Homo sapiens: one gene and its partners. The protein of the gene in region 6 interacts with the protein of the main gene of each other region in a pairwise test. Each region holds a gene or a part of one and is shown on either strand. Other genes may lie near its edges.

The links.
Region 1: the proteins of NAPB (region 6) and STX5 interact in binary tests that used the Homo sapiens proteins (3 or more experiments, as listed by UniProt).
Region 2: the proteins of NAPB (region 6) and TAF1B interact in a two-hybrid assay, tested with the Homo sapiens proteins (one large-scale study listed by BioGRID and IntAct).
Region 3: the proteins of NAPB (region 6) and SNAP29 interact in binary tests that used the Homo sapiens proteins (3 or more experiments, as listed by UniProt).
Region 4: the proteins of NAPB (region 6) and STX6 interact in binary tests that used the Homo sapiens proteins (3 or more experiments, as listed by UniProt).
Region 5: the proteins of NAPB (region 6) and SYT1 interact in binary tests that used the Homo sapiens proteins (3 or more experiments, as listed by UniProt).
Region 7: the proteins of NAPB (region 6) and DSCAM interact in a two-hybrid assay, tested with the Homo sapiens proteins (one large-scale study listed by BioGRID and IntAct).

What each region holds. Positions count from the first base shown.
Region 1 is NC_000011.10:62,811,552-62,815,051, forward strand, and holds part of STX5 (syntaxin-5), read right to left. Parts: intron 1-3,500. UniProt on the Homo sapiens protein: Mediates endoplasmic reticulum to Golgi transport.
Region 2 is NC_000002.12:9,930,474-9,932,694, forward strand, and holds part of TAF1B (TATA box-binding protein-associated factor RNA polymerase I subunit B), read left to right. Parts: intron 1-2,221. UniProt on the Homo sapiens protein: Component of RNA polymerase I core factor complex that acts as a GTF2B/TFIIB-like factor and plays a key role in multiple steps during transcription initiation such as pre-initiation complex (PIC) assembly and postpolymerase recruitment events in polymerase I (Pol I) transcription.
Region 3 is NC_000022.11:20,865,507-20,869,006, reverse strand, and holds part of SNAP29 (synaptosomal-associated protein 29), read right to left. Parts: intron 1-3,500. UniProt on the Homo sapiens protein: SNAREs, soluble N-ethylmaleimide-sensitive factor-attachment protein receptors, are essential proteins for fusion of cellular membranes.
Region 4 is NC_000001.11:181,002,371-181,005,870, forward strand, and holds part of STX6 (syntaxin-6), read right to left. Parts: intron 3,094-3,500; coding exon 2,924-3,093; intron 331-2,923; coding exon 236-330; intron 1-235. UniProt on the Homo sapiens protein: SNARE promoting movement of transport vesicles to target membranes. Targets endosomes to the trans-Golgi network, and may therefore function in retrograde trafficking.
Region 5 is NC_000012.12:79,284,274-79,287,773, reverse strand, and holds part of SYT1 (synaptotagmin-1), read right to left. Parts: intron 1,988-3,500; coding exon 1,803-1,987; intron 1-1,802. UniProt on the Homo sapiens protein: Calcium sensor that participates in triggering neurotransmitter release at the synapse. May have a regulatory role in the membrane interactions during trafficking of synaptic vesicles at the active zone of the synapse.
Region 6 is NC_000020.11:23,393,989-23,397,488, forward strand, and holds part of NAPB (beta-soluble NSF attachment protein), read right to left. Parts: intron 3,213-3,500; coding exon of another isoform or gene 3,201-3,212; coding exon 3,084-3,200; intron 1,480-3,083; coding exon of another isoform or gene 1,289-1,479; exon of another isoform or gene 1,238-1,288; coding exon of another isoform or gene 1,198-1,237; coding exon 1,151-1,197; intron 1,012-1,150; coding exon 934-1,011; intron 1-933. UniProt on the Homo sapiens protein: Required for vesicular transport between the endoplasmic reticulum and the Golgi apparatus.
Region 7 is NC_000021.9:40,333,159-40,336,658, forward strand, and holds part of DSCAM (cell adhesion molecule DSCAM isoform CHD2-42 precursor), read right to left. Parts: intron 1-3,500. UniProt on the Homo sapiens protein: Cell adhesion molecule that plays a role in neuronal self-avoidance. Promotes repulsion between specific neuronal processes of either the same cell or the same subtype of cells.

The DNA of each region.
Region 1 (3,500 bases), on a different chromosome or scaffold from region 6:
TCCCCTTTTTGGGCTGGCATTCCCTCCAAGTCTTAGCTTGGTATCACTTCTGGGAAGGCCCCTTGGCCCCATCTAGGAGCAGTACCTACTCTGAGTTCTCTCATCCCTTTTTTTTTTTTTTTAATAGACACGGGGTCTCTGTGTTGCACAGGCTTTCTTGAACTGCTGGCCTCAAGTAATCTGCCTCGGCCTCCCAAAGTGCTAGGATTACAGGGATGAGCCACCACACCCAGCCTCATCCCCTTCTCTTCTTGCCCTATCATACTGAGCTGTCACTGTCAACTTATGTCTCTCCTACTAGTGAGCTCCAGGAGGACCAGAATGGTCTTTCACCCTTTTATCCTCAGACCCAGCAGGATTAGCTCACAGCAGCAACAAATGTTTGCTAAACCAATGAGCAAACACATGCTAACAGTGAAAAATACTTATGACACTGTTTCAAGGAAGACTAGAATGTAAAGTTGCCTATATGCTATAACTTTATTTTAGATGTATATGGATTGAGGAAAGAACTCAAATACCTTTTTTTTTTTTTTTTTTTTTGAGATGGAGTTTTGCTCTTGTTGCCCAGGCTGGAGTGCAATGGTGCGATCTCAGCTCACAGCAACCTCCGCCTCCCGGGTTCAAACCATTCTCCTGCCTCAGCCTCCAGAGTAGCTGGGATTACAGGCATGCGCCACCATGCCTGGCTAATTTTGTATTTTTAGTAGAGACAGGGTTTCTCCATGTTGGTCAGGCTGGTTTCAAACTCTGGACCTCAGGTGGTCCGCCCGCCTCGGCCTCCCAAAGTGCTGGGATTACAGGCATGAGCCACTGCGCCTGGCCCTCCATATCTTTTATAATTCTGTTTCACTGACTCTATAATATTCTTTTTTTTGGAAACGGTGTCTCACTCTGTTGCCCAGGTTGGAGTGCAGTGGCGTGTGGCGTGATCTGGGCTCACTGCAAGCTCCGCCTCCTGGGTTCACGCCATTCTCCTGCCTCAGCCTCCCTAGTAGCTGGGACTACAGGCGCCGGTCACCACACCCGGCTAATTTTTTTGTATTTTTTTTAGTAGAGATGGGGTTTCACCGTGTTAGCCAGGATGGTCTCGATCTCCTGACCTCGTGATTCGCCTGTCTCGCCTCCCAAAGAGCTGAGATTACAGGCGTGAGCCACCACGCCCAGACTTAATATTCTAATATTCAAAATACAACATAGCTCAGGGAGCTATGGTGTTTATGGCATAATTCTGCAAGGGGTTCCCTAGGTCTCAGCTGAAATAGATAAAAATCAATTAGGCCGGGTGCGGTGGCTCACGCCTGTAATCCCAGCACTTTGGGAGGCCGAGGTGGGCGGATCACGAGGTCTAGGAGTTCAAGACCAGCCTGGCCAATATGGTGACACCCCATCTCTACTAAAAATACAAAAATTATCCGGACATGGTGGCTCGTGCCTGTAGTCCCAGCTACTTGGGAGGCTGAGGCAGAAGAATCATTTGAACCCAGGAGGCGGAGGTTGCCACTGCACTCCAGCCTGGGTGGCAGAGTGAGACTCCGTCTCAAAAAAAAAAAAAAAAAAAATCAGTCAATTATTAGCCAGGCATGGTGGTGCATGCCTGTAATCCCAGCTACTCGGGAGGCTGAGGCAGGAGAATCACTTGAACCTGGGAGGAAGGGGTTGCAGTGAGCCAAGATAATGCCACTGCACTGCAGCCTGGGTGACAGAGTGAGACTGTCTCAAACAAACAACAACAAAAAAAATCAGTCAATTCTCCTGACTCTAGGATCAAGACAGCTGTACTCACGGTACCTTATAAATGGCTGGTGCTCAACATATAGTAGTTGAATAAACAAACTTTCTTTTAATCAGTAGTTCCCAAACCTGGATGCTCATCAGAACCCCCTATGGAATTTGTAAAAATGAAGCTCCCTGAAAAGCCCACTCCATTCACATCTCTCGAATCAGAATCTCCAAGTGTTTTCTTTTACCTTGGCCAGTTAAATGTGTGAGGCTGCTTAGTGGATTGATGTTCAGAAACCGGCTTTATACAAATGTAGGTGTTCACTCAGTTTCACATGATCAACAACGTAGAGTAAAAGCACTCTGCTAGATACCGTGGGGAATAAAGATCAATCAGGGTTGGACCCTGCTAAAGGGATAAGATCAAGTGGGCAGGAGTGGATTCCTAAAACCTCCTACACCTCCTCTCCTCTACTGGCTTTTCTTCTTAATGAGCTGAGAAGACTGAAGTGGTCTGAAGATAAATGCCGCTCCACCCCGAGCATTGCTACAATAGCCTCTGTCTTCCCACCTATCGCCAGCTCCTCTTAGAGCCAAGCCTTGATTTATGCCCCGGAGCCCACTTCCTTTCACCTTCTCAAGGACATCATTTCAAGAATTCTCCCATCTTTCTCCTATATTATCATTTTTAAATTTATCCGTTGCATCATTTCCATTGGCATGCTAACATACCTTTATTTTCTCTCAGCCTTTTAAACCCTCTAGGCTCCCACCAGACATATTTGGAACAACTTGAGCACTCACAATAATCATTGCCCTAACTAATAATAAGACAACCAATACATTAAAACCTATAATTAAAGCCTATAGCGATGCTCAGAAAAGAGGAAGAATTTAATTAATTTACTTGAGATGGAGTTTCGCTCTTGTTGCTCAGGATGAAGTGCAATGGCACAACCTTGGCTCATTGCAACCTCCACCTCCTGGGTTCAAGTGATTTTAGTGCCTCAGCCTCCCAAGTAGCTAGCATTACAGGCATGCACCACCACGCCCTAATTTTGTATTTTTGGCAGAGATGGGTTTCACCATGTTGATCAGCCTGGTCTCGAACTCCCGACCTTAGGTGATCCACCCACTTCTGCCTCCCAAAGTGCTGGGATTACAGGTGTGAGCCACCGCACCCGGGACTCTTCCTTTTTTTTTTTTTAGATAAGAGTCTCACTCTGTTGCCCAGGCTGGAGTGCAACGGCGTGATCTCGGCTCACCCAACTTCCGCCTCCCAGGTTCAAGAGATTCTCCTGCCTCAGCATGCCAAATAGTTGGGATTACAGGCAGGTGCCACCACGCTCAGCTAATTTTTTTTTTTTTTTTGAGATGGAGTTTCGCTCGTTGCCCAGGCTGGAGTGTAATGGCGCAATCTTGGCTCACCGCAACCGCTGCCTCCCGGGTTCAGGTGATTTTCCTGCATGCGCCACCACGCTCAGCAAATTTTGTGTTTTTAGTAGAAACGGGGTTGCTCCATGTTGGTCAGGCTGGTCTCCAGCTCCCGACCTCAGGTGATCCGCCTGCCTCGGCCTCCCAGAGTGCTGGGATTACAGGTGTGAGCCACTATGCCTGGCTTTCTGATTTAATATTTAAAAAGCTATTAAACAGTTTGGGGACAACTGGGAAAATGTAAACCCTCACTGGATATCACATATTAGGAAATAGTTAATTCTAACAGATAGGATAACTGGGTGTCTTTTTTTTTTTTGAGATGGAGTCTTGCTCTCTTGCCA
Region 2 (2,221 bases), on a different chromosome or scaffold from region 6:
TTTGAGTGAGTTTCTTAATCCTGAGTTCTAATTTGATTGCACTGTGGTCTGAGAGACCATTTGTTGTGATTTCTGTTCTTTTACATTTGCTGAGGAGTGCTTTACTTCCAACTATGTGGTCAATTTTGGAGTAAGTGTGATGTGGTGCTGAGAAGAATGTATATTCTGTTGATTTGGGGTGGAGAGTTCTATAGATGTCTATTAGGTCCACTTGGTGCAGAGCTGAGTTCAAGTCCTGGATATCTATCCTTGTTAACCTTCTGTCTCGTTAATCTGTCTAATACTGACAGTGGGTTGTTAAAAGTCTCCCATTATTATTGTGTGGGAGTCTAAGTCTTTGTAGGTCTCTGAGGACTTGCTTTATGAATCTGAGTGCTCCTGTATTGGGTGCCTATATATTTAGGATAGTTAGCTCTTCTTGTTGAATTGATCCCTTTACCATTATGTAATGGCCTTCTTTATTTCTTTTGATCTTTGTTGGTTTAAAGTCTGTTTTATCAGAGACTAGGATTGCAACCCATGCTATTTTTGCTTTCTATTTGCTTGGTAGATCTTCCTCCATCCCTTTTTTTTGAGCCCATGTGTGTCTCTGCATGTGAGATGGGTCTCCTGAATACAGCACACTGATGGGTCTTGACTCTTTATCCAATTTGCCAGTCTGTGTCTTTTAATTGGGGCATTTAGCCCATTTACATTTAAGGTTAATATTGTTATGTGTGAATTTGATCCTGTCATTATGATGTTAGCTGGTTATTTTGCCTATTAGTTAATGCAGTTTCTTCCTAGCCTTGATGGTCTTTACAATTTGGCATGTTTTTGCAGCGGCTGATACCGGTTGCTCCTTTCCATGTTTAGTGCTTCCTTCAGGAGCTCTTGTAAGGCAGGCCTGGTGGTGACAGAATCTCTCAGCATTTGCTTGTCTGTAAAGGATTTTATTTCTCCTCCACTTATGAAGCTTAGTTTGGCTGGATATGAAATTCTGGGTTGAAAATTCTTTTCTTTAAGAATGTTGAATATTGTCCCCCGCTTTCTTCTGGCTTGTAGAGTTTCTGCCGAGAGATCAGCTGTTAGTCTGATGGGCTTCCCTTTGTGGGTAACCGACCTTTCTCTCTGACTGCCCTTAACATTTTTTCCTTCATTTCAACCTTGGTGAATCTGACAGTTATGTGTCTTGGGTTGCTCTTCTCAAGGAGTATCTTTGTGTGGTGTTCTCTGTATTTCCTGAAGTTGAATGTTGGCCTGCCTTGCTAGGTTGGGGAAGTTCTCCTGGATAATATCCTGCAGAGTGTTTTCCAACTTGGTTCCATTCTCCCCGTCACTTTCAGGTACACTAATCAAATGTAGATTTGGTCTTTTCACATAGTCCCATATTTCTTGGAGGCTTTGTTTGTTTCTTTTTACTTTTTTCTCTAAACTTCTCTCTTACTTTATTTCATTAATTTGATCTTCAATCACTGATACCCTTTCTTCCACTTGATCGAATCGGCTATTGAAGCTTGTGCATGTGTCACATAGTTCTCATGCCATGGTTTTCAGCTCCATCAGATCATTTAAGGTCTTCTCTACGCTGTTTGTTCTAGTTAGCCATTCGTCTAATCTTTTTTCAAGGTTTTTAGCTTCCTTGCGATGGGTTTGAACATCTGCCTTTAGCTCAGAAAAGTTTGTTATTGCCGACCTTCTGAAGCCTACTTCTGTCAGCTCGTCAAAGTCATTCTCCATCCAGCTTTGTTCCGTTGCTGGCAAGGAGCTGCAATCCTTTGGAGGAGAAGAAGTGCTCCAGTTTTTAGAATTTTCAGCTTTTCTGCTCTGGTTTCTCCCCACCTTTGTGGTTTTATCTACCTTTGGTCTCTGATGTTGGTGACCTACAGATGAGGTTTTGTTGTGGATGTCCTTTTTGTTGATGTTGATGCTACTCCTTTCTGTTTGTTAGTTTTCCTTCTAACAGTCAGGTCCCTCAGCTGCAGGTCTGTTGGAGTTTGCTGGAAGTCCACTCCAGACCCTGTTTGCCTGGGTATCACCAGTGGAGGCTGCAGAACAGCAAATATTGCTGCCTGATCCTTCCTCTGGAAGCTTTGTCCCAGGGGGCACCTGCCTGTATGAGGTGTCAGTCGGCCCTTACTGGGAGGTGTCTCCCAGTTAGGCTGCACGGGGGTCAGGGACCCACTTGAGGAGGCAGTCTGTCTGTTCTCAGAGCTCAAACACCATGCTGTGAGAACCACTG
Region 3 (3,500 bases), on a different chromosome or scaffold from region 6:
CCGCTCACAGCATATGAGCTCCACGAGGCAGGGACTTGCTCTGTTCACTGCTGAGTCTCTGCAAATCTGCCCAATGGAGACGTGAGTGATGCTCTGTGGCCACAGTGGCAGCCTGATGGTCCCTCCAGAGCTGATGGTTCTGGTTGTGGATATACATTCACAACATCAACACTACCACTTTCCTTTATTTACGACAAACTTGCTTCAGTCCCTAGTTCAGAACTGATCTACAGCTGCGGCCCATCTGTGAGCTGCCTTTCCAGCCAGAAGGCTCTCGAGCTTCATTTTTCCTGCTCTGTCAGGCAGCCTCTGCCCTCAGCTGCCTTCCTCTGAATCTATCCACCCATCACCCTGTGGCTTAGCAATTACACTAACTATGCAAATGTTTTTTAGATATATTCTCTCTTGATGCCTAAAAACAAAGTCAAAAAAAATTTTAAACATCCTGGAAACCTGAAGAGCAAAATGCAACTATAAATAAATGGTTGTGGCTTCCTTAAAGTCCTTAAGGAATCAATGTGTAACCTGAGTCCTTGTTTAATGGGTGAAATTTAAAAACATAATGTATAGGCAAAAAGCTAAAACACTGGTTGGTTGAATTTACTATTAAACTTTGTTTAACTCTTGCTGGAAATAAACTTAGAACTGCTGAATTTTACAGCTTTCAACGTTTATGTTTTTCACTAGTTCACAAGAGATGTCTGAACAAACCATCAGCCTTTTTTAAGTAAAAAAAAGATGTTTTCTGGATAGTGTCACTCAGTATGTCAAGCAAATCTTGCAAGGGCTAGTTTTCAAAAGAAAAAAGAGCTGCTAATGTATCTGGCATTTCTGCTCCTTCCATCACCTCAAGTTTATCATCTTCATGTCCACACTGCGGTCTTCTCTGGAATAAGGCAGAGCTATACGTTAGGATTAACAGATTTTCTCCAGCATCTACATGTTTTTCTGACAGTCCAGTTCCAGCTAGCTTTGCAGGCTGCAGAAGAAGCTTTCCAGTAGCTGGAAAGACACTCAGAGCAGCCAGGTTGGGGACTGGGGAATGAAGAGGTGGCCAAGACTCTGCTGTCACATTAGGAGGGAGGTCCTCAGCTTCCCTGATGGTGAGCTCCTCCCATCAGGGCCAACCCACGACCACTCACCCTCCCACCCTGACCTCCTCATCTCAATTTGGAGAGCTACCTTCCCCAGTATGGACTTATTTTCTCTTATTCACAAGAGACACATTCTCTCAAACTCCCAGAGTCTGTGCTACTGTTAAGGAAACCAGATGGCTGATTTAGATGTTTAGATGGGAGCACAGAGAAGTCTGTGAGGGTGGCTTATCTTGCCTGTGAGGCTGGAAGGCCAGGCGACTGAGTGCTGCTCTGGCCTCTGGAAGTTTCTGTTTGCTGAAAGCTAGTGTTCACCAGAGGTCATGAGGCCAGCAAGGGAGGAGTTGTTTCTTCTGCTAAAATCCACCCCCAGAAGGCAGAGGAAATGACCGGACTTAATGTGCTTGTGACCTAGTTCCAACCAATGAGGAAGAAGGGTTTGACAGAGCAAACACCAAAATACCAGGAAAGAGAACACTGACAGTCTGTAAGGACAGGCCAGGCAGACACCTGTGCCCCAGCCACCACCAAGACAGGCCTCAACCGCTCCAGGTACCGAGGCAGGTCCACACCCCCCTCCGCAGAGCCACGGCCCATCTTCTCCAACTTCCCGTGGGAGAATGAGGTCCCTGAACGGACTTGGGTGGCTGCTAGGGGAGTGAGCTCCGCAGGTGCCCTCAGTGTAAAGGACGCACATGCAAAGTGCTTCCTTGTTTCAGTGATTACTAAGCATTACAGGTGATGCCCTTCTTACTCCCTTGAACCCCAACAAGAGTTCTCTCTTTGTCCACGAAACAATCCCAAGTCTCTGTCCTGATGGTGTTTACAGTCTAACAGAGAGCAAGATGAGTGAGGTTCAATCTCAGCTTTTCATTTGTTGACAACATTGCAATGCTCGGAATCCAAGAAAGGCAGATGAGTCCTTGCTTCACTGAGCTTACAGTCCTGTGGGGGAGGCAGAAACTAAAGCTACTGCACGCGTGCACACAAACACATACACACACAGAGTCACCTCTCCCTGCAGACTCTTTGTTTAGCTTAAGGTGGGGGTCAGAGAGGCTCCCTGTTGAGGCTGGAGGAGAGACTGAGAAGTTAGGCAGTCAGAAAGTTGGGGGTCCTGTCCATTTGGACTTAGTTTTCCTAAAAACAAATCACAACGAAGAGTTGGGGTGGGGCAAGGGCACCAGGCAGAGGGTGCAGCTTGTGCAGGGGCAGAGGAACCGTGTGGGGAGTGAGCGGGGCTACCCACAGGACTCGGCAGGGAACACCCACAGGATGTCACTAAGGCCTTCAAAGGGCAGCAGTGACCAACAGATCTCAACTGCAACTCGCAGCCAACACATCTTATAACATCAGGTGGGCTTCCGTGACCGAGACCTCCCCAGGTTCCTGACGGAAGGGCATCAATACTGTGTTTCTCATACTGAGCTCGTAAACTCAGGTTCTGATAAATGAGGTTCATCATAAGTAGACGGAGGCCAATCTGGAGTCAGTGAGCTGAATCTAGAAATCTGAAATTTATCTTTGTTCCATCTCTCCCTTCCCAAGGGAGTGTGCACAGGCACAAGCCTTGGCAGGGATACGTGAGCACCCATGGCAGATGCTCAAACCCGGGGCTCTGACTGTGGCAGCTGGAGTATGGGGTGGATTCAGAGACAAATCGGGTCTTAGGGTGCAGGAAAAACCACCAAGGGCAAAGGCGGTAGTGCTGGTGCCCCTCGCCGTCTGTGTGCAGGCCAACCTGGGGCTGAGCAAAAGGCTAGCTCAGCAGCTCTGGGTTGTCCATACACTCCACATTCCAAAGAGAGGTGTGGCCCTAGCCTGGTTCCTTGTTTTTGGAATATCCTGCCTGATAAGAGTGTCCTTGCTCAAGTGAGCCTAAGCTTAGACCAGGTCAGACAGACTATGCTAACAATGTGATATATGATGGTGGCCTTGGGCTACACGTTATCAGCTTGACCTCTGGTGGGGTTGGAGACTATACTCAGCCATGCCTATGTGACAGACTCCCCAAAAAACTCTGGACACCCAGGCTTAAGTGAGGGTCCTTGGTTGACAATACTCTGTGTGTGTTGTCACGCACTGCTTGGAGAAGTGTTGTCCACATGACTCCATGGGGAGAGGACAACTGGAAGCTTGTGCCTGGTTTCCCCTGGACGCTGCCCTATGCACTTTTTTCATTTGATGGTTTTAATCAGCATCTTTTCATTGTAAGAAACCATCACCATACGTGTAACAGTTCTGTGCATCCTTCCAGTGAATCAGTGAAGTTGAGGGTAGTCTTGGGAACCCCCAAACACCTCCCTACAACACTTCCCACTCTAAGAACACCTCAGAGGCAGAAAGCTGTATAGCAGATGGCCGCTCAGCTTGTCACAGCATGTTTCCTGGTCAGCAAAGCAAGGT
Region 4 (3,500 bases), on a different chromosome or scaffold from region 6:
TTCAAACCCCTGGGCTCAAGTGATCCACCCACCTCCACCTCCCAAAGTGCTGAGATTACAGGCATGAGCCACCATGCGCAGCCAATCAGAGAAATTATATATGGGGAAGCTCACATTTAATTCATATTTAAAAAGTGGTTTCAGAGGTGACCTATTAGTTTACAATTAAGGGAAAGAGCTCTAAGAAGTCTGGCTATTTCTTATACAGATAACACAATAAGATCATATTCCTTACCCTGACAACTTGCCGAGTACTTGTAATGAAGGCTTTTCTTATACTCAATTCAGTTGCATCAAGGTTAAATTTTCTAGGATTTGCTTCAACTATGCGTAGGTCAAAAAGTCAAGGTAAAACAATTTCATCATCAAAGCCTGACAACATCCTGTTAACTCACTGAATCTCTCACATGCAAACAAATAAAATCTGGCTCAAACTTTCTGAAAACACAGTCAGCTGGACACCAATCATTCTCAGACTTCCTCTGCCCACAGCCACAGGAGGGAGGATCCCTTTGCTCCAAGACAGAGATGATCTGTCTGGTTAGGAAGCATAGCCCCTGCTGATGAGCTTCACTGCAAACACTTAGGGCTATCTGACCACAGGTGAGCTGGGCTCTTCCTGTTTGCCAACACTTGTGTCTATCCTTTTTTGACTCCTGATCACCTTTACTAAGACAGCTTTTGCAAGCCTTTTTCTCCTGCCATTCCAAACCACTTCCCATTATGCCAAGATGCTAACCCTACTTCTTAATCTAGAGAGATCGGGCCTTCTTCAGAGAAGCTGCCCTCATTCCCTTACCCTCTAGCCTGGTCCGACGCACCATGTCAGACACTTGCATAGCTCTCTATACTTCTCGTTCATAGTCTGCAGGTATCTATTTGTGTTATTACTTGATTACCATCTGTCCCCCATCCCTATCCACTCAAAGTTCTGTGAGGGCTGGTATAGTGTTTATTAATCTAATCTCTGTAACCAACAAAATGCCTGGCACATAGTATACTCAATAAACACTTGCTGGTTGAATGATGAGTATCTATTAAAACTTTTGTTTTTTTAATCTCACATTTTCTCTATCTCCCCTAACTTTTTTTCCTTCCCTCCTTTCTCAAGGGAAGAATTATCTCCCTGTAACTGTGCTTTTGATCCTGCCCCCTCACATATTTGCCACTAATTTTAGAGAACATACTTGCCTTTTAATAATGTAAAAGGTACCAGGGTCATCATGAATAACAAAAATTATTTACTCCATGTATCAACTGCATACGAACCTGTGCTAACTATAAGGTGATCCTGACAGAAGCTGGTTTCCTTATGTTTTATCTCACTTAGGGAAAAAACAAAACAGAACTCAGAACATGCAAGTGGCATATCTTCCATCTAAAGTTTTGGTTAAGTGGGATTTCCAGTTGGAAAAAAAGGCTATATAATGAAGTTTTTACAGTTCTCCAGTGCATGAGTCAGATCAGTGGACTTACTTCACATCAATACCATGAATTAGCAGAGCAGATCTGCTTTTACTAAATGCAGTTTCATGGAACAAGACATCTCTTCAATGGACGGTAGCACTGTAACATCACTTCTTAAACATGAAGACAGTCTACAAAAAGATTTTTTGATCTCTAATTACCGAAGTGTAACACTGGCCTGTATGGACCTCTATATGATAATGACTGCTAACACTATTACATAAGCTGTGTGCCAGGTGCCATTCTAAACTCTTTACCTGTATAATCCCAATAATCCTATGAGCTAGGTACTCTTGTTATCCTAACTTTCCACTAAAGAGGAAACGGAAGCACAGGAGGTTAAGTGATGAGCCCAAGTCACATGGTAACTGGTTGTGATACTGTAATAAATGCAAATTCGGTCTCTGCCCCCTCATTTCTGGCACACAGCTCCTTGATCCCTTGGAATCTCCAGATGAGTATCTTTTGTATGTTAATGGGATAATTGATGGCTGGGGGTTTCTAGATAGCCTCAGGACGAGGGGCTGGTCCCCAGAGAAACCAACCATGTGATTAGACAGTTGAAGCTTTCAGCCCCCTGCTTAACCCCACCCCAGGGGAAAGGGGCTGAAGGCTGAGCTGATCACCAATGGCCAACTGATGTGATCAATCATGCCTGCGAAATGAATCCTCCACAAACACCAAAAGGACAGAGTTCAGGAAGCTTCCAGATAGGTGAACATGTGGAGGTTCCTGGAGGCACCTGAAGAGGGCCTGGAAGTGCTGCACCTTTTCTCCCATACCTTGCATGCATCTCTTCCATCTGGTCATTCATCTGTATCCTTTGTAATATCCTTTACAACAAATGGATAAACCTAAGGAAACTGTTTCCCGGAGTTCTGTGAGCTGCTCTTGCAAATTAAATTAATTCGATCTATGGAGGGGGTCGTGGGAACTCCAATTTATACGTGGTCAGTTGGAAGCGCTGGTCACAACCTAGGGCTTGCAACTGGCATCTGAAGTGGGGGCAGTCTTGTGGGACTGAGCTCTTAACCTGTGGACCTGATGCTATCTCCAAGTAGACAGTGTCAGAAATATCATACTGACTTGAGTGTGAGGGTAGAGACTTAAAAAAAAAAGAAAAAAAGGGTTTTTTTTTTTTCCCTTTACATTGGTGGAGGCAGGACTTGAACACCAGAAATCTGACTCCAGGGTCCACAGTCATAATCATTACACTATGCTGCCTTTATATATATATATACATTTATAGTACAGGATTTGTCACACACTGTATAAGAATTTGGCTACTGTACCTTAAGTTACTGGGCAAATACTTTAAACATGTCATGGTACAAGTAAGAGCAACAAACATTAATCGATTATAAAATGTTTCATCTACATACTGGAAACAACTGGAGAAAAACTTGTCCATTTGTCTATTTATCCCGAATGGCACAGACACCACAGAAAAGGATATTGATGGTTTCATCAAGGTCCTCTAGATCCCACTCTATGCTCCGGAGGTTATTTCTCAGCTCGTTGGTGGTCCAGTCGATTTCTTCCCTTGTTGCTGTGGAGGGGTCCTGGAGGAGCTCTGTCCATCTCTGAAACAATCCCTGGGCAGTGTTGACTGCTTTCTGTACCTCTCTGTAATCAAGATGAGGCAAAGGAGAGAAATCACAGACAACATTCCATGGTCAAGTTACTGCATGATTTAGGTTAACATTTATGATCATACACCATCCTCAGCAACCACCATTCCCACAGAAGGCTCTTCACAGACAAATATCAAAGTTCAAAACTTTGATACACAGTCTGAGTATTATGTTCTCAGCTGATGCTTGGAATACAATAGCCATTATTTAAGCAGCTACAATATCAAGTTTGTTGGGGAAGGACAAATTTAATATTTTTCTCTGAACAGACTATACGTAAAAGTATAATGAAGCAATCCTACAAATTAACTAAAGGGCAATGAGCATTCCCACATGCTTCCACTTGGTGTGACAGTATTAATAATTTATACTCAGATGATAAGTCCTAATATGGCCTTT
Region 5 (3,500 bases), on a different chromosome or scaffold from region 6:
CCAGGTCATAACAGGGGTAATAAACACCACCACTATGCTGTAAATTATAATTTTACATCATACAGAACAAATCCCACAAATATTATAGATTTATTGTCCTAGGAAGAAATGCTATCGTTATCACTTAACATTATTCAGTAATTTTAATTAGTTCTAGAACACAGGGAAACCACATTCAAATTTTATGATAATTATGAAAAAGATAGTGATCTATTGTCAAATTATTGTTTTCACAATATTGATAAAATTAACATACATATTATTCAGTCCATGTCCATCTAGGAGGTTATTTCCACACTTAATCTCCCAATAAGTTGTTTAAAGAAATCTTTATCAAGTCCTGCTTGCTATGAAAAGTGTGGAAATAAAGTAAGACATGCCTGGAAATTTTAGTTTCTACTTAAATTAACTGAAGAGAAAAATCTTTATTAGACACCTGTAGTTGAACGTTTATGCATTGGCTTTTGTGACTGTGATTAGAAATTGCCAGAAAAATCAAACCCTTGCTACTCCGAGCTCAGGCCAAAACTCTCTGAGTATGAGTACAGGCATTTCATCCATTCCATAGCTCCAAAACAGAACAAAAATGCAGGGAGTAAAACATGAGCCTTTGTGAAATTATTATCAATAGATACTATAGTGTCTTTGAGGAAAAAGAGTTTAAAACTGAAGCTGGGAAGGGGAGTTAATGTCCCTGAATGTGTAATGAACTAGGAAACAACGCAAATGTACTTAAAATGCCTGTTGTAACACCTGATTAAATTGTTCTTAAGGAGATTCAGGTTTAAGAGTTTGATTAATAGTAATTAATAGTATAAGAGGAATTTATAAAACTGCTTATATATTTTGCTATTTGGGAATAAATAAAACTTTTGTATTTGATGAAAACATTGATAATTGAAAATGTTAATTCTATAAAAAATCTGTACATTTACATTTTAATTTTAAAATATGAATTAAATATTCTTTAGAGATATTCAACATGGATATTATTTCAAAAATGAAGAGGCATTTAATAATTATCATTAATAATAGTAAACATTATCTTGAACCAAGTTGTCCAATTAATTTAGCCAAAAACAGATAGCAACATAAAGAACATCCAAATAGCTTTTTTGGGCTTGGAAAGATAACCCAGCCAGATGGATTTTATAACCAGTGTTATGGTTGTAATTGTCCTTATTAAATTGAAATGAGAATTTTGTCTTATAAGAAATAAGAAAGAAAACTTTTTCATAAGGCAAAAATTCTATCCTGTCGTGTTCTTTAGAACTGGCTCATATTTCTCTCCCTTCTCCCATGTAACTCATTATTCTTGAGAATTAATTTTTCAGCTGGATGGACATGTAGGAAAAGCAGCTTTCATCCAGTTTGATGAACAGCCGTAAAACTCAGTTATTTAACAGTGACTATGAACAGTAGAAATTAGAAAGATCCCCTGCCCAAATGCAAAACACTCAGGCACTTTTTATCTGATTTTTCTAACTCTAAACGCAATGAAGACTGGTTAAACAGATGTAATCAAAATATTCAGGCATCATTCTCATATGCCAAACCCATCAAGATGGGCCTGATGATCATGGATGCCCTTTTCTGTTCTATATGCTCAGGAGATTGGAAAACCCTGCCAAATGCTTCCATTATGCTTTGGGATCTTGAACAATGACTGAAAGGTTTGCAAAGCATCTCAAAAACGATATGGGTCCAGAAGTTGTTTATTTCTGTAATTATATGGCATAAAATAATACATTTGTTTATCTTTTTTAAACAAAATAAGAAGAAATGTAGAAAGAATACATTACCTGATCTTTCATCGTCTTCCCTAAGTCTTTTACATCTTTCATGTTAATGGCATTCTTCCCTCCTTTTTCCTTTCCCTTCTTCTTGTTTTTCTTTTTGAACAAACATTTCTTACAGATACAAAAGCAGCAGGTCAGGACTAAAAGGACTGCGACTATGGCTATTGCAATTAAGGCCCACGGTGGCACTGAAAGAAACACACAGAGAGCACTAGTCATACAACACTTAGATGTGGAAAACCTTTTAACTCATGGGCTATAAAGATATTCATTTTTTTCATTTGCATTTTTGAGCACCTGTTATGCTGCAGGTACACCATTCCTCAGTACTTTATCCATGTTGTTGTCTCCCTTGAGTGTATTGTTTCCTTTCTTTCCCACTTTGCCCTTCCAGATATGTCAAATGTCATCTCCTCCCTATTACTTTTCTTGACTCTCCAAGCTAGATTTCTAGGAACACATCTCTTCACTCATTCAGAGCCAAGCTTTGGAGTTCAGCCATTGAGTTTAAATCCTGGCTTCACCATTTACTAGCTGTGTGATCTTGGGCAAGTCATCTAACCTCTCTCTGCCTCACTTTCCTCATCTCTAAAGTGGAAATAAATTGGTAGGTACCCCATAGATCTTTCTGAGTATTAAATAATAAGATGCAGTGCCTGGCACATGGCAAAAGCTTAATAAATGGCAGCTGCTATTACTCATCTATAAAATACTAGGTGTTGTATTCTTATGTTCTGGCATGGTATGGGGCAGATATTAGTTGTATATATAGAACAACAAATGTCAAATCATAACAATAGTGAAGGTTAATTAAAAGTACTTGGTGATTTGAAAATCAAGCATGGGGAAAATGTATGCACTGAAGTTCTCCAGATGTGGGTGATGCTCATGTGTTCGGTGGCTCTTAACCCAGGTTTAGATTTTGGCTTCGGCCACTTAGAGGCTGTGTGACTCTACTCAGATTGCTTCACTGTTCTGAGTTTCTGTTTCCTCCTCTATACAGTGAAGATTACAGTGGTACCCATTTCATCTGGCTTAAAGATGAAAGGGATTAATATGTTAAAAAGCTTTTAATGCATCTGGAACATAGCAAGAGCTCAATTAATGTTAGCTATCAATTCTTTTTTTTTTTTTTTTGAGATGGAGTCTCGCTCTCTTGCCAGGCTGGAGTGTAGTGGCACGATCTCGGCTCACTGCAAACTCTGCCTCCTGGGTTCAAGCAATTCCCCTGCCTCAGCGTCCCGAGTAGCTGGGACTTCAGGCACACGCCACCATGCCCAGCTAATTTTTATATTTTTTTTAGTAGATACGGGGTTTCACCATGTTGGCCAGGATGGTCTCGATCTCCTGACCTTATGATCCACCTGCCTCGGCCTTGCAAAGTGCTGGGATTACAGGCGTGAACCACCACACCTGGCCAAAGTTAGCTATCATTTCTTTATAGTCAAGGCATGGTGGGTAAGGCAGAGAGCTCAGGACATATGAAAAAACATAAACTACTCACACAAGTAAATACCTAAAAAGCAAGATAAATACACAGAGGGGAGTTTAGTGAAAATGCAAAGGCAATGAGAGGAGGACGGATGATTTTTAGATAAGAGGAGAGGCTTAGGTTTACAGGCTGTTTAAAATAATAGAACATATATACATAAATATACTAAAATAAACATTGAGTTTTCTATTACAGTTGTCTCTCTGATA
Region 6 (3,500 bases):
GGAGGAGAATAACAGAAAAGAGGAGAGGCCAGGCCACACAGATGCATGGGGAGTGTGGGGCTGGGAGGAAGCAATTCAGTGGACCCATGAAGGCTCTGCACAGCTCCAGCTGTTCCTCTTAGTGAAAGGGGTCTAATGACTGTCAGCAGTAGAGAAACAGAGTATGATGCAATGCTTAGAAGGCTCACTCTGGCTACTCTGTGGCATGGGGATGTGGGGTTGGCAAGGTAGGGAGAGCAAAAGCAGGGAGACCGGTTTGAAGGATCCTGCAGCGATCAAGTGTGAGCTGAGAGACAAGGTAGTGAGTTGTGCCAAGACTTGGGAGCAGGAAGGACACCGCTCACAAAAATTGCTCACAGGTTGTAGAGAAAGAGAAAAGGCAAGGAAGCCTGTAGTTTAGCGGGGAACACTGGGTTGGGGACATCTGAGAATCCAGTCCCAGACATGTTGGGTTAGAGATGACTGCTGGACAAAGTGGAGAGGTCAGCAGGCAGGTGGATACAGTAATCTAGCATTTGGAGAGAGGTCTAGGCTGCAGTCAGATTTCTGAGTCACTGGCACACAGATACTTAAAGCTGTGATGCTGACTGAGTGTACAGAGGTGACCTCTTACACTTTCTTCACTGGGCCTTAGAGTACTAAGCAATACAGCTGAAGGTTCTTTTGGCAATGCTAATGTTCTGACATGAATCAGAGAGAGTGGAAACAACAGGTGATCTCTGTAAATCTTAATCAGCTCTCATGTCTTAGATGTCCACTCCAGGAAAACAGCCCATCTACTTAGCCAGCTAGTAGACTTTGCCAGAAAGTCTCCAGGCAAGGCCATCTATGACCACTCTACACCTACGATCACTCTCAGACTGAGGAGAGGAGAGTTCTTTGAGTCAGCTTATCTGCCTGCTTCACATCTGAGGAAGTGTGCCCACTGCTTACCTTCTCAATGTCTACAAGTTCAGTCTCATAGATCTCTGCAATAGTAATGTGGTGCTTGGCTGCAATTGTAAACCTTCCCTAGGGGAAAAAACAAGAAACAGTCACACACCGATTTTACCTATCTGAATGCCAGTTTGGGAACATAAAAAAGAAAGATAGAACTCTAAGCCATCTCAAGACTCCACCCCACAGCCACTCAAGCAATGCAATGTCTTACCATGTCTGTGTAAATGTCGATGGCTGCATTTAAGCAGTTGATAGCCTCTGAAGCGTAGGCATTTAAGAAAAACAATGAAAAATCCATTCAGTCAAAGAGGGTTCAGGTGAGGCTGTCTTCCTGGCTGTTATCAGAACGTTAATGAGGTATAATTTTGGAGTGGAGGGTGGGCAGGTTAATGAGAAGCAAACAAAAATCATGCACAAGTCCAGATTCATCAGCATGGCTTTGTTCCCAGCAGCTATAGTATAATTTAGGGAACTGTAGCTGGAGTAACATTGGCTTAGTTACTCTTAACCTTAAAGTGAGGACTCCATCCAGGCAAAAGACTGTATTATAAAGAAAATAAAACCATAGAGGTTGTCACCAACACTGATAAATTGTATCTGCTAAAATATGAATGCAAACATATTCCTCATTAATACCATGCATATATATTAATTTTGGAACATGGCACCACATCACAAGAACAATCACCTCAATAGATTCTACTCTCCATGCAGCCAAAAGCAAAAGCACTTTGAAATGCCTATTCAAACAACCCTTAAGCAAAGTCAACATTCTGTATAATGTTCAAAGATGCTAAATTGTAGCATACTAACAAAATGAAGAAACAAATCTAATAAATAATAATGCTAATAAATTTTACTAATTTTCTAAACAAGTGAGCCAAAAAATTTTCCCTATCATAAAATGATGGTGTTTATGATGCTGGCATACAGTGACAGCTCCAAGTTTATTACGTTTGGTTTAAAGAGGCAGCAAAGTAGAAAGGCCTGACTACAAAATTAGAAAGGTAAGCAGATGAACAAAAATTAAAACAATTTCCCTCTAAACTACATAAAAAATGTGGATCCCTGTTACACCTTTTAAAATACAGAATATAAAGAGAAAAATAATCTATCAATAATCCCGCTCAAATCCGTTGTTAGTACTCAGATGTACTTTCCTTTTGCGTTTATTAGACACATTTCTATATGCACAAACTTTTTTCTGAAAATGAGATTATACAACATTCAGTCTCATGTGCTTCTTTAATTGACATGTAAACATTTACCAGGTCACTGAAGATTCTCTGAAACCAGGGATTTTAATGCCTGCACCATATTCTAAAGTACTGATGCATTACAATGTTACCACTCTAACAGCTTATTTAACCTGTGTCCAGTTTGTCACTTTGGGAAATAAACTGTGATTAACCCTTATACCAAAGGTATTGAAGATACCCTATTTCTTTATGACATATTTATTCTCAAAATTTGGGATCTGTGTGTTAAACAAAATGGACTGCTAAAAGAAAAAGGAAAAACACAAAATTTCCGCTGTGCACGCGTGTGGAAGGTAAGAAATTAATACTTTTAATTACACTCTTCTAACTAAAAAGAAATAATCTTTGCAAAATTTTACCACATTAAATATCCAATTGCATTCTTTCCTCAAAACAAATACTTTGAAAAACTTTTTAAAAAACCAAATGAATACTGTATGAATCAGACTTTTTAACGATTGAATATTACAATCTCCCATTAACTGGATCTGAAAACTCCTTAGGTATTTAGGAGTAAGGGAACATAAGAGTTTCCTTTTATGAACAATATACATTTTCACAAAATTAAGATATAAGAAGTCTTAGATAAAATTAAAGGTAATTTCCAAAAAATTCTCTAAAATGCAATATAAATAAGAGTTTAATTAAATGATGCTATAAAGTAAACAGCCAGTATAAATTTAACATAATTTCTCCTCATAAAAGCCCCCAAATGATTAAAAAAGAAAAATCCCTAAGGTTATCAAAATTCTCTATTATTCCAAAATACAAAAATTCCTTTTTACCAGGACTTGAAAGCACACCAACACTGACCTTAACGTTGAGGGAAGTACTGACTGGTTAGTTACACACAGAGATAGCATGCTACATGCCTGGCTGTCTTACCTTGGGGATCTGCCTTTTTGTAAGCATTTCCAGCATCCACAAAGCTGGTAGCAGAGTCATGTTTGCTCTGAAGCTGCATGTGGAGCTTGGCTGCCTGACAAAATGCGTTTCCTGCAGCTGAAGAAGACACTACAATTAAACACAGAGGAACAAGTCCCCCCCAGAGCAGCCCATGCTGTAAGCACTGGACCTCCCTAGAAAAATTATATTCCACTGAAAAGAAGCATTCTAGTCAGAAGCAAAAATCCATGTGGTCCAGTGCACCTCGGGCAAATATAAAAATAACCAGAATCAAGTCAAACAGCGATGAAAGCTTCTCCACCTCAGCTCCAGCAGACTTTCCAAGTGTCCCTGGGCACTAAGCCACTATTCCCTGATCTGTCCATTCAATACCAGTAGCCAAGTCTTGGGCTACTC
Region 7 (3,500 bases), on a different chromosome or scaffold from region 6:
AGTCTCTTTCAATCCTAATCCACAGGGAAAGCCAAAATTCTAAGTCTTTTCCTAAAATTTAGCTAATTTCTTATCTCCCTCCCCTAATACTTGGTAACTGAAAATAGTAAAGGTTAATTTTTAAAAAGCCTTGATAAACTACAATCCTGACCATTGGAGTATAATTTACTTTATATATTAATATTTCATTTAAAAACATTTTACTGATCGATCGATTGATTGATTGAGACAGAGTCTTCCCTGTCACCCAGGATGGAGTGCAGTGGTGCTATCTTGGCTCACTGCAAACTCCGCCTCCTGGGTTCAAGCCATCCTCCCTCCTCAGCCACCTGAGTATCTAGGATTACAGGTGTGTGCCACCATGCCTGGCTAATTTTTGTATTTTTAGTAGAGACCAGGTTTTGCCACGTTGGCCAGGCTGATCTCAAACTCCTGGCCTCAAGTGATCCTCCTGCCTCGGTCTCCCAAAGTGCTGAGGTTAAAATATTTTAAAATGTAAACTTAAATGTTCAGAAGTCATTTTATTTAAGACCCTTCTAAGTTCTGAGTAAAGGCTAAGATTGCGAATGGTGTAAAACTGTTACTGTGTTTTGGAAGTAGTTCACCACAGTCTTGCACTCCTGGCCTCAAGCCATTCTTCTGCCTGAGTCTCCGGAGTAGCTGGAGCTACAGGTGCGTACCACATCACACCTAGGCCTCCCAAGTAGCTGGGATTACAGCAGTGAGCCTCTGCACCTGGCTGCTTAAGCAAAGGTAATTTGGGTTCTCGCACCTTGCAACCAATGGGGTCATAGTCAATACATGGATCTGTGCCAATCTGGGAAATCTAAAAATAGGTAAACTTACATTTCAAACAGTCCTTGTTTGAATTTTTGTCAGACTTTATTTTCAGATATTTGGTGAAGGGTTCTAATGTGAGCCTGACTGGGGGCTGGGGAAGCCTGTACATATGAAGTTAAAATCTGCGGTGTAGTGCACAAAGTCCCCTGAGGGTCCTGTTCAGGCCTTGGTGTTGAACATCATCTATTCACTGATGTCACCAGATCTGCAGCCTGGATTCCTGAACTCTACTCTCCCATATCTAATTTCCTACTGACAGCATCCACTTCTTTGTTTAGTGTGTATTTCAACCTCAACACATCGATAACTAGACTCCTAATCGCCTTCCTCAAACGGCTCCACTGCATCTTCTGCTGACTCAGTAGAAAGCAATGCCATTCTTCCTGATATTCAGGCCAGAAGCCTGACCTGATCCTTGATGTCTTTATTTTCCTCACACCTGTATCCAACCACTAGGAAAACCGACTGAATAGACCTTCGAAATAGATCCGGAGTCTGTCTTCTACCCCCAACCTCCTCTGCTCTCCCCCTGGTCCAAGCCACCATCATCTCTCACCTGGATTCACTTTCCAACAGGTCATTCTACTTGCCCCCTTTCCCCGAATAGACCATTCTCAGCACAGGAATCAGATGCGTCCTTCTTCTTTTTAGAGATGGGGTCTCACTATGTTGCCCAGGCTGGAGTGCAGTGTCTATTCACAGGTGCAAATATAGTGCACCACAACCACAACCTCAAACTACTAGACTGGAAGTATTCTCCTGTCTCAGCCTCTGGAGTATCTGGGACTACGGGCTCGTCCCACCTTGCCTGGCTAAAAGCATCCTTTTAAAACCTTAGTCTGGCCATGTGACTTTTCTGTTTAAAGTCATCCAATAAAGCCCCCATCTCACTCAGCAGAAAACCCCACGTCCTGAAAACCGAAGTCCTGATCTAGTAAGTCCCCCGTGAAAAGGTTCTGCTCCTTCTGACTCAGGGCCTTTTAGTGTTTTCTTGTTCACTTGGCTCCCACCACACCAGCCTCTCTGTTATTCCTCAAGCTTGCCAGGCAAACTCTAGACACCGTGGTTGTATCTCTTCCCTTTACCTAGGATGTCCCTTCCCCAGGTATCCATGAGCTGTCTTGAACCCCTTCACATCTTTGCTCAAAATCTCACTTTTTCCAGGCAGCTTTTCCCGACTATTCTGAAAAATTTGGCAAGCCCCAAATCCCAACAACTGCCATTTCTCTCCAGGCAATAAAATACCACATAAAATAATATTTTCCTTCTTTTGTTTGCAAGTACTTGCAAAGGAGCTGACAAGTTTTATACTATATGATAAGTATTCAGAAGAAAAGAAGCTCCTGAAGAAAAAATTATTCAATAGAATTATTTCCTAAAATCATAAATATATTGTTTATAAGAGACAATAAATTATTCTTTTGGCCATAAGCTAGTTTGAGTTGGTTTCTGTCACTTCAAAAGGATTAAGATGAATACATTCATTTATACTGATCTGGCAAATTTAAAGAATAAATGTTAATGATTCAAAGGGCTTTCGTTTAAATCTATGTCTCCTAAAAATTACATTAAAGTATTATACCTATTTATCCAATGGTCATACTTCTGGAAATTTTTCTCGAAAGAAATAATCTTAAAATCAGACAAAGGCCAATGCATAAAGAAGTTCATTTGATGCCTCATTTGTAATGGTCAAACATTAAAAATAAACTAAAATTTTAGCACTGTATTAGATGTTTTCAAAATGTAGCTCACAGACCTGTAGGGATCCCTGAGACAATTTTAGGTGATCTGTAAGAAGAAAATCGTTTTCATGACAATGCTGAGGTGCTGTTTGCCTTTCTCATGGTGTTGACATTTGCACTGTTGGAGCAAAAGCCATGGTGGGTGAGACTGCTGGGCGTTACCATGAATCCCAGCAGGGACACTAACAGGATGACTATTCATTGTACTGTTTACCGATGCATACTGTGAGTTGGTTTTTTAAAAATGCCAGATTCACTTACAGACACTTGACGAAGCAGGAAACATAACAGTTTTATTACATCTTTACCCTAAAGCTCACGTTATTTTTAATGTTCTATGTCCTGTGTAATAAAATGGGAAGAAGGCACAGTGTTTCCTCCACCTCCTGAGCAGCACGGCTATTTTCAAGCAGAGTATGTCTGTGCTTGCTTGAGTTGCAAATTCGACCAGCTGCTTTTCTTCATGGAATTCCATTTCTTTCTTAAAAGAATGGCTACCTAAAAACGATGGTTATGCGGTCTTTTCTATTTGTCAAACAATTTCTTACAGATAAATGAGCCCATCACTCCTACAATTACAATTGATGGTGTTTATTATAAATAATAAAATTGAATCTTTCAAGAAAGAATAGAATTTTAGAAAACTTGCATCCATCAGCATGAACTTGACAGTTTACTTGAAGACTTTCTGATGAGATCATGGTAATGTTAGTAGTTGTGATATTTTGATATTGTATAACAAATTGTATCAACATTTGGAAGATCTGTGTAACACAGTGAACCAATCATTTCCAAATGATCAACTTTTTATGTTACAAAATCATGTGTGGGTAAAACATTCCTTCCAAGGGTATGATAGACCAATGAATTTTAAGATGACAGAGTACAGAAAATGTGTTGATATGGCATCTGACT